Linked DNA regions of Homo sapiens. The protein of the gene in region 2 purifies or fractionates together with the protein of the main gene of each other region. This does not show direct contact. Each region holds a gene or a part of one and is shown on either strand. Other genes may lie near its edges.

Region 1 (3,832 bases), on a different chromosome or scaffold from region 2:
TTAAGAAACATTTTGCAATGCAGCTAAAATGAGGAAAACAACTGCTTTAGTCTATAATATTTTGCTAAGCTTGGCAAAACAATGTTGAGACTTGGTTGAGATAATACAGACTTTTTATTTTTTATTTTCTAACAGAAAGGGTCTCACTATTGTCCAGGCAGTTCTCAAACTCCTGGGCTCAAGTGATCCTCTTGCCTCAGCCTCCTGAGTATCTGTGACTGTAGGTGCCCCCACTTCCCTGCCCCTGCACCTGGCTAATCTAGACATTTTTGGTCCCTTTTTATTAACTGAATTTTGCACTCAGTTTATTAGATAATTATAGAAAGTGTGTACCTTTATATATGCCTATCCAAAATAGAAAAGATATGAAGAAAAAGGTTAGAACAGAAAAAAATGATCAGAGGGAAGATTAGCAAAATTTTGTTTAACTCTGATCTTAATAATTTTAACCAGTTTATTACCTCAAGTGCACATCACATGTTAATTTCAGGTAAGATTTTTTATAGTCTTCCATTTGGTGCTTCCTTGGTCTTATTTATAAATTTTTTTATTATTAGGATCCAGTAAGAAATTAAAGGGTATTTTATAAATAGTTCTAATTTAGTTTGAAACTTGATGACTATTATCTTATTAGAATTCTGTCTGGGTTCACTAGCCTAAGGCAGTGCTTCTCAAACCCTAATACATACATGAATCACCTAGGAGCCTAATTCGTTGGTAGGTCTGGGGCGGAGCCTCGTATTCTGCATTTCTAACAAGCTTCCAGGAGATGCCCGTGATTGAGCTGCAAGAGCCTGAGGTACCACAAGGATCCTTGTTATAAAACAAGTTCTCTTTCAATACAGCCCAATAGCACAGAATTTGACAATCCTAGCACTAGGGCTTTGTTCTAGTTATTGAGTGAAATAAAAGCATTTTTAGGGTACAGAAGAAATGGAAAGAACCTTAATCTTTTATATTAATCAGTGTTTTCATATTTTATTTAACTTTTGTATTAATCAGTGTTTTCATATTTTAATCAGTGGAATGGTGAAAAATTAAGATAGGCCTTACTATACGTGATTTTTTTTTTTTTTTTTTTTTTTTCAAGACAGGGCCTTGCTCCCATCACCCAGGCTGAAGGGCAGTCACATCACTACACCCTTGACTTCCCAGGCTCAAGTGATCCTCCCACTCAGCCTCCCTAGTACCTGGGACTACAGGCAGGCTTCACTACACCTGGATAAATTTTTTGTATTTTTAGTAGAGACAGGGTTTCGCCATGTTGCCCAGTTTGGTCTCGAATTCCTGGGCTCAAGTGATCCACCTACCTCGGTTTCCCAAAGTCCTGGGATTACAGGCCTGAGCCACCATGACCAGCTTATAGGTGATATTTTATAGTAAAGAATATATGTATAAAAAAAAGGTTTTTAGTACTACTAATAATAGGTTCATTTCATCCAAAATAGTCTCTCTTTGAGAAGTTTGTACTGCAAGGCAAATTTTGCTCCCATTCAGATTGGTGTGGAAAGAAAAGGTTAAGGAAGTCTTATTATTGGAATAATTTAAGAGGTTTTTATGCCCTTAATTGGGATTGCATTTTAAAAAGTAAAGACTAACAGATTCTTTTGTGTGTTTATAAAGTATTTCTATTGTCAGTATTATTTTTGAACCATAAATTATGAGTATAGTTGAATTTACATTAAAGATAATATGTATTAGATTTTGTAGGCATTTTAGTTATTAAATTTAACTTAGCCTTATGCTTTTTTTGTGCATTTACATACATATTTAATATTTAAAAATAAGTAATCTTAACCCTTTAGAGTGCCAGATTTGGATACATGAAACAAGTAAGTTGCTTTTCATGTATTTCAGTTTGTGTTCTTTTCTTTTTATTTTTTTTTGAGACAGAGTCTCGCTCTGTTGCCCAGGCTAGAGTGCAGTGGCGCGATCTCGGCTCACTGCAACCTTTGCCTCCTGGGTTCAAGCGATTCTCCTGCCTCAGCCTCCCGAGTAGCTGGGATTACAGGCATGTGCCACCATGCCCTACTAGTTTTTGTATTTTTAGTAGAGACGGGGTTTCACCATGTTGGCCAGGCTGGTCACGAACTCCTGACCTCAAGTAATCCGTCTGCCTTGGCCTCCCAAAGTACCGGGATTACAGGCATGAGCCACTGCCCCTGGCCAGTTTGTGTTCTTTTAAAACATCATTTGAAGTTTAACTTAAATGTTTTACAATTAAAAGTGGAAAATTATGGGACACTCAGTGTTTGTTACCCATGAAAGAAACAGATTGTAATCTTCATGATAATATATTAGCAAACGATAATTAAATGTCAGCTGTTCTTTTAATGAATCCCCCAAACAATGAAAGTTTACTACTGTAAGAAATGTGTTTCTAAGTTCTGATTTGTGTCTTGTACTTATTGTTCACTTGGTTGCTATGAAATTCTGTAGAACATATAACCATGCTTTAATTCCAGGGCTAGTTTTGTGATTCTTATAAGATTTAAAAAAATTGTTAATTAAAAATTTAAAAGTATGCCATACTTTGAGACAACACTAAACTCAGGCAACTTAAATATTTTACAGGGTACTTTCTCACTTAATTCACTTGTCAGCAGGCAGGAACAGGGAGATTATTTCCTGTAGTGTTTCTTTTTTATATGTGGTAGCATGTTGCTGTGTCTTCTATAATTCTTCCAAACTTTCCACTGTTAGATAGTTCTAGTTGAAGCAAGGAGAAATTGTGTTTGATTTTTAGGGGTAGGAGTCAGAATGGCATTTGGAGGTTTACATGAGAAGGGAGACTGTTGATGACCAAAGGCAGGAGGAAGGGACTGTGAAACTTTGCACTATTGCCACCACTGGCCTCTTTCTCTAACTAATCATCCTGCATCTCATTCAAAGTTAGGAAATAAAATGACAGGGTACCTTGTGAAAACTAAACAGAAGAGGAGTCGGGGAATAGAGACTTCAAATATTAACAGCTCCTTTATTCTGCTTGATGGGAGAGCCTCTGGAAAATATCACCAAATCACTAGTTTACCCAAATGGATCAATCAAGGCATTTTTCTATATCCCTTACATTTCTGTCATATAAACCTCAAGCATCCACACCAGAATACCTGCTCATCTCCCAAACCACACATTAAAACTGGCACTGGCATATGCTATACACAGGAGTTCAAAGAAGGAAAGGGTGGGATTACAGGAGTAGTCTTGATTTCTTAAATGTAAGTATTTGCTTCAGAGGCTTCTTCCCCATTTTCTTTTCTGGTCTTTGGAACACTCCCTTTCACTTGCTAATTTATGGCTTTATTTCTAGAGACTAGGAAGGCTTGGGTTTGCTTTGTTTTGTTCTTAGCCAATGCAAGCTAGCATTGTGATTTTTGTCTATTTAGTTATGAAAAATTATACTGCAATAAAAAATTTTTGGATGCCAGATTATTATTAAGGGATTTGATCTGAAACTCATTTTAGCAAAAGTAAATTAAAAAGAGGAGAGCCTGCCTTTCTGTATACCGGGAACATTTTGAAAGAACACGAGAAATGATTGGAATAGTTTTTTGAAAGATAGCTGCTATATAAGTTCAAGATTATTATTTTATTTATTTTATTTATTTATTTATTTATTTTTTTGAGACAGTCTCACTCTGTCGCCCAAGCTGGAGTGCAGTGGCATGATCTCGGCTCACTGCAAACTCTGCCTCCCGGGTTCAAGTAATTTTCCTGCCTCAGCCTCCTGAGTATCTGGGATTACAGGCGTGTGCCACCACACCTGGCTAATTTTTGTATTTTTAGTAGAGACAGCGTTTCACCATGTTGGTCAGGCTGGTCTTGAACTCCT
Region 2 (3,600 bases):
TCACTGCAAGCTCTGCCTCCCAGGTTCATGCCATTCTCCTGCCTCAGCCTCCCGAGTAGCTGGGACCACAGGCGCTCGCCACCACACCCGGCTAATTTTTTTGTATTTTTAGTAGAGACGGGGTTTCACCGTGTTAGCCAGGATGGTCTCGATCTACTGACCTCGTGATCCGCCCGCCTCAGCCTCCCAAAGTGCTGGGATTACAGGTGTGAACCACCGCGCCCGGCCCTGGCTATGATATTGCTAAGTTTCCTAACCTCTCTAAGGTTCTTTTCTCTTCTATTAAAAGGGAAAAATAAGACCTCCCAACAGAAGTGAAACTAGGCATTGGCTTAACACGTGATGGATGGGAGCCACGACTATCTTCATCATCTTATTTTTAATTATCTATCTGTGCACATGGTAGTAAATTTCTCGCCCTGGCCCAGGTACCCAAGACCCCAATTCTGTCGGAGACAACCGCAATTAACAACTTCTTGTGCATCTTATCAGACAGCTGGCGCGCACACCCGCAGATACGCCCACCCTCAGGCGTCCTTCTACGCAAAGATGGATAGCACCCATCAACGCTGTTTTTTCTTTTTTTAGACGGAGTCTCGCTCTGTCGCCCAGGCTGGAGTGCAGCGGCGCGATCTCGGCTCACTGCAAGCTCCACCTCCCGAGTTCATGCCATTCTCCTGCCTCAGCCTCCAGAGTAGCTGGGACTACAGGCGCCCACCACCACGCCCGGCTGATTTTTTTGTATTTTTAGTAGAGATGAGGTTTCACCAAGTTAGCCAGGATGGTCTCGATCTCCTGACCTCGTGATCCGCCCGCCTCGGCCTCCCAAAGTGCTGGGATTACAGACGTGAGCCACCGCAACCGGCCCAACGCTGTTTTTACTGTTGTTTCCTTTTTTAACCTAAGGTATCTTAGAAGTCACCCTACATTAGTGCATATTAAACATTGTTCGTCTTAATGGCTGCACAGTATTCCACTGTATGGATTATTTTTTAATTTGGTTGCCGGTACTGTTATCAGCCAGGGAATTTGCGAGGACCCAGCGGGATTTATGGAGCTGCAGAGTTGGAGTCTGGGGACCCAATTCCAACCCCAGATCTGTCCAGAATTCTGTTGTCTCGGGTATCATCTCCACCGGCGCGGTCGTGGGAGGGGGATTTGGGTGCAGACAGGACCAGCCCCAGTGTCCGAGCGAGAATCAGCGAGCAGCACGCGCAGTTGATTCCCGCGGGCGGCTCAATCATTCTGTGCAGCCACTCCGTTATACTTAGTAGCATCAAACTCATTAAGCACTCTAGCACAACCAAGCTCGGAACCGTTAGCCGACCCTCCCAGCCTCGGCACCTGACCTTGGGGAAGTGGCGCTCCGACACAGCTACTCACCCTCACCTGGGCCGCTTCACCCCTCGTTCCCAAGTACACCCCGTAGGTTGCAGCAGTCCCTGTCCCTTTAAGGGGGCCGAGCCCGGCTCCGCTACTTCCGCCCCGAAGCAGCAGGGCGCTAGCGCGGAGGCGAGAGCGGGAGAAAGCGCCGCTAGAATTCTCCTCATAAAGATGGCGACGCCCTGGCCGCCGCGTTCGCGCCCGGCGGTGACGTCACTTCCGGGGCGGAGGAGGCTGAGTGGTGCAGTGAGGGACAAACAAAAGGAGGCGCCGGAGCAGCGCTGCGGCCGGCGGCGGGACGGAGCGGCCGGGGCCTGGGGCTGCCTGCCGGGCGGCCGGGCGCGGCGAGCCCAGGTGAGTGGACGGGGTGGGGAAAGGGGCGCGAGCTGTCACCTCTCGAAACCCACTTACACACGCCCTCGGCCAGCTGCCCGGCCCGGGGCGCCCGGGGCATCTGGGGCTCTGTCTCCGGGCCGGCCCCCTGGGGACCTCCCGCGGTGTTCGGCCTACCTCTGGGCTCCCCAGTGCCCGGAGTCTCCGGGGCACCACCTTCTCGCCGGCTCCGCGGCGCGCGAGCCCCCTCCCAGGCACCCCTGTGCCTCCTTGTGCTTCAGAAACCAGGAGTTTCCGCCTCGGCTCCCCCATGTCCCCTTGTCATCCCCTGGGTCCCCCCAGATCCTCACCCCTCCACACACACTCTCCCGTTCCTAGAGGTTCCACCTCTGGGCTCTCTCCTTGCCATTTCTTTTTCAAAGATTTCCTTAGCTGTCTTCTCCTGAGTTCCTGGTCCCCTTCTCTTCCCTTGCACCCCTCCTTCCTATCGTTCCGATGGGGGCAGTGCCCTGACTTGGGGGCAGGATCCCCGGCTAGGCTCTTGGGGCCTTTCTGGGATGGGATATTTGGGAAGACCGGTCCGGAATCTAAGAACCCAGACCCTGTCCCAGTCCTGTGCATTCAGGTGGGCCCGAGGGCGAGGCGAGATCCAGTGAGGTCCAGGCCTGGTGCAGCCCTAGGTGAGCTGGATACCCAGCAAACTGAGCTCCCAGGCTGAAGGGGCATAGCTGGGGTCATGGAGTTCATGATGATTCTGCTGCTTTCGCTGACTGCTTCTTCCCCTTGATCTGGACCGGGGTGAACCGAGGTCTGCCGGTTCTCAGCTGTTGCGATTGTTGCCTTTTTTGGGAAGGAGGGATGGGTCGGGGGTTGTCTGGTAGCCGCCTCCTGATGGAGACTTGGCTGGAAGGGTGGGCGGTTCCTGGGTGAGCCACACTTCCACTGACTCCTCTTCCCCTGCCCTACCTCAGGAAGCCTTTTGAGAATGAGGTGTGGAGGGAGAGCACCTGGTAAGAGGAAGGGAACTGGGGGAGCCCGAAGTTCCCAAGGACCTCTTCCACCTCTTCTGTTAGTAGTACTCTTAACCCCTGCCAAACTGTATTCTGCCCTTTGGAGCAGACAACCTGGCAGACAGACAGGCTGTAAGAAGCGGGAGGAGATCGGCTGTTGCTGATACTTCCTGTGGAGGGGATGTGGGAGTGGGAGTTTGTTCAGAGAGACTGGGCAGTGCTGATTGCTCAGTCTCACTGGTGTTGCTTCCATGAAGGTCAAGTCTTCCTCTGGCTCATGAAGTGAGGCAAGGACAGATGACCTGTGCTGGAGGAGGCTGTTGTGGACATGCCAGGGATGAGTGACTGGGTGGCTGGTCTCTGCTTCCTTGTTTTCCTGGTCTCAGGGCTTTGGCATGGGGTCTGATGCCCTCTGCGTTCTAGGGACCATAGGGTACAGAGCAGGGGGTGCAGGGCCGGGCGTGGTGGCTCACGCCTGTAATCCCAGCACGTTGGGAGGCTGAAGCGGGCAGATCACGAGGTCAGGAGTTCGAGACCAGCCTGGCCAACATAGTGAAACCTTGTCTCTACTAAAAATACAAAAAATTAGCCAGGCATGGGGCTGCGCACCCGTAATCCCAGCTATTCGGGAGGCTGAGGCAGGAGAATTGCTTGAACCCAGCAGGCAGAGGTTGCAGTGAGCCAAGATCGCGCCATTGCACTCCAGCTTGGGCAAGAAGAGCAAAATTCCATCTCAAAAAAACAAAAAAAAAAACAGAGCGGGGGCACAGGAAATGTTCATGACTTCCCCCCAGAACTTGACTAGATGTGGTGGTTCTCCATCCCTTAGGCACACCCACCAGGAAGCCGTTTCCTTTGCAAACTCTTGAATGAC

Evidence for each region. The genes of interacting proteins can lie anywhere in the genome.
Region 1: the proteins of KYAT1 (region 2) and ZZZ3 purify together in Homo sapiens (affinity purification with mass spectrometry; 2 studies listed by BioGRID and IntAct, with this or other methods). This does not show direct contact.

Annotation. Positions count from the first base shown.
Region 1 is NC_000001.11:77,633,960-77,637,791, reverse strand, and holds part of ZZZ3 (ZZ-type zinc finger-containing protein 3), read left to right. Parts: intron 1-3,832.
Region 2 is NC_000009.12:128,880,514-128,884,113, forward strand, and holds the start of KYAT1 (kynurenine--oxoglutarate transaminase 1), read right to left. Parts: upstream 1,438-3,600; 5' UTR 1,384-1,437; intron 1-1,383. UniProt on the Homo sapiens protein: Catalyzes the irreversible transamination of the L-tryptophan metabolite L-kynurenine to form kynurenic acid (KA), an intermediate in the tryptophan catabolic pathway which is also a broad spectrum antagonist of the three ionotropic excitatory amino acid receptors among others.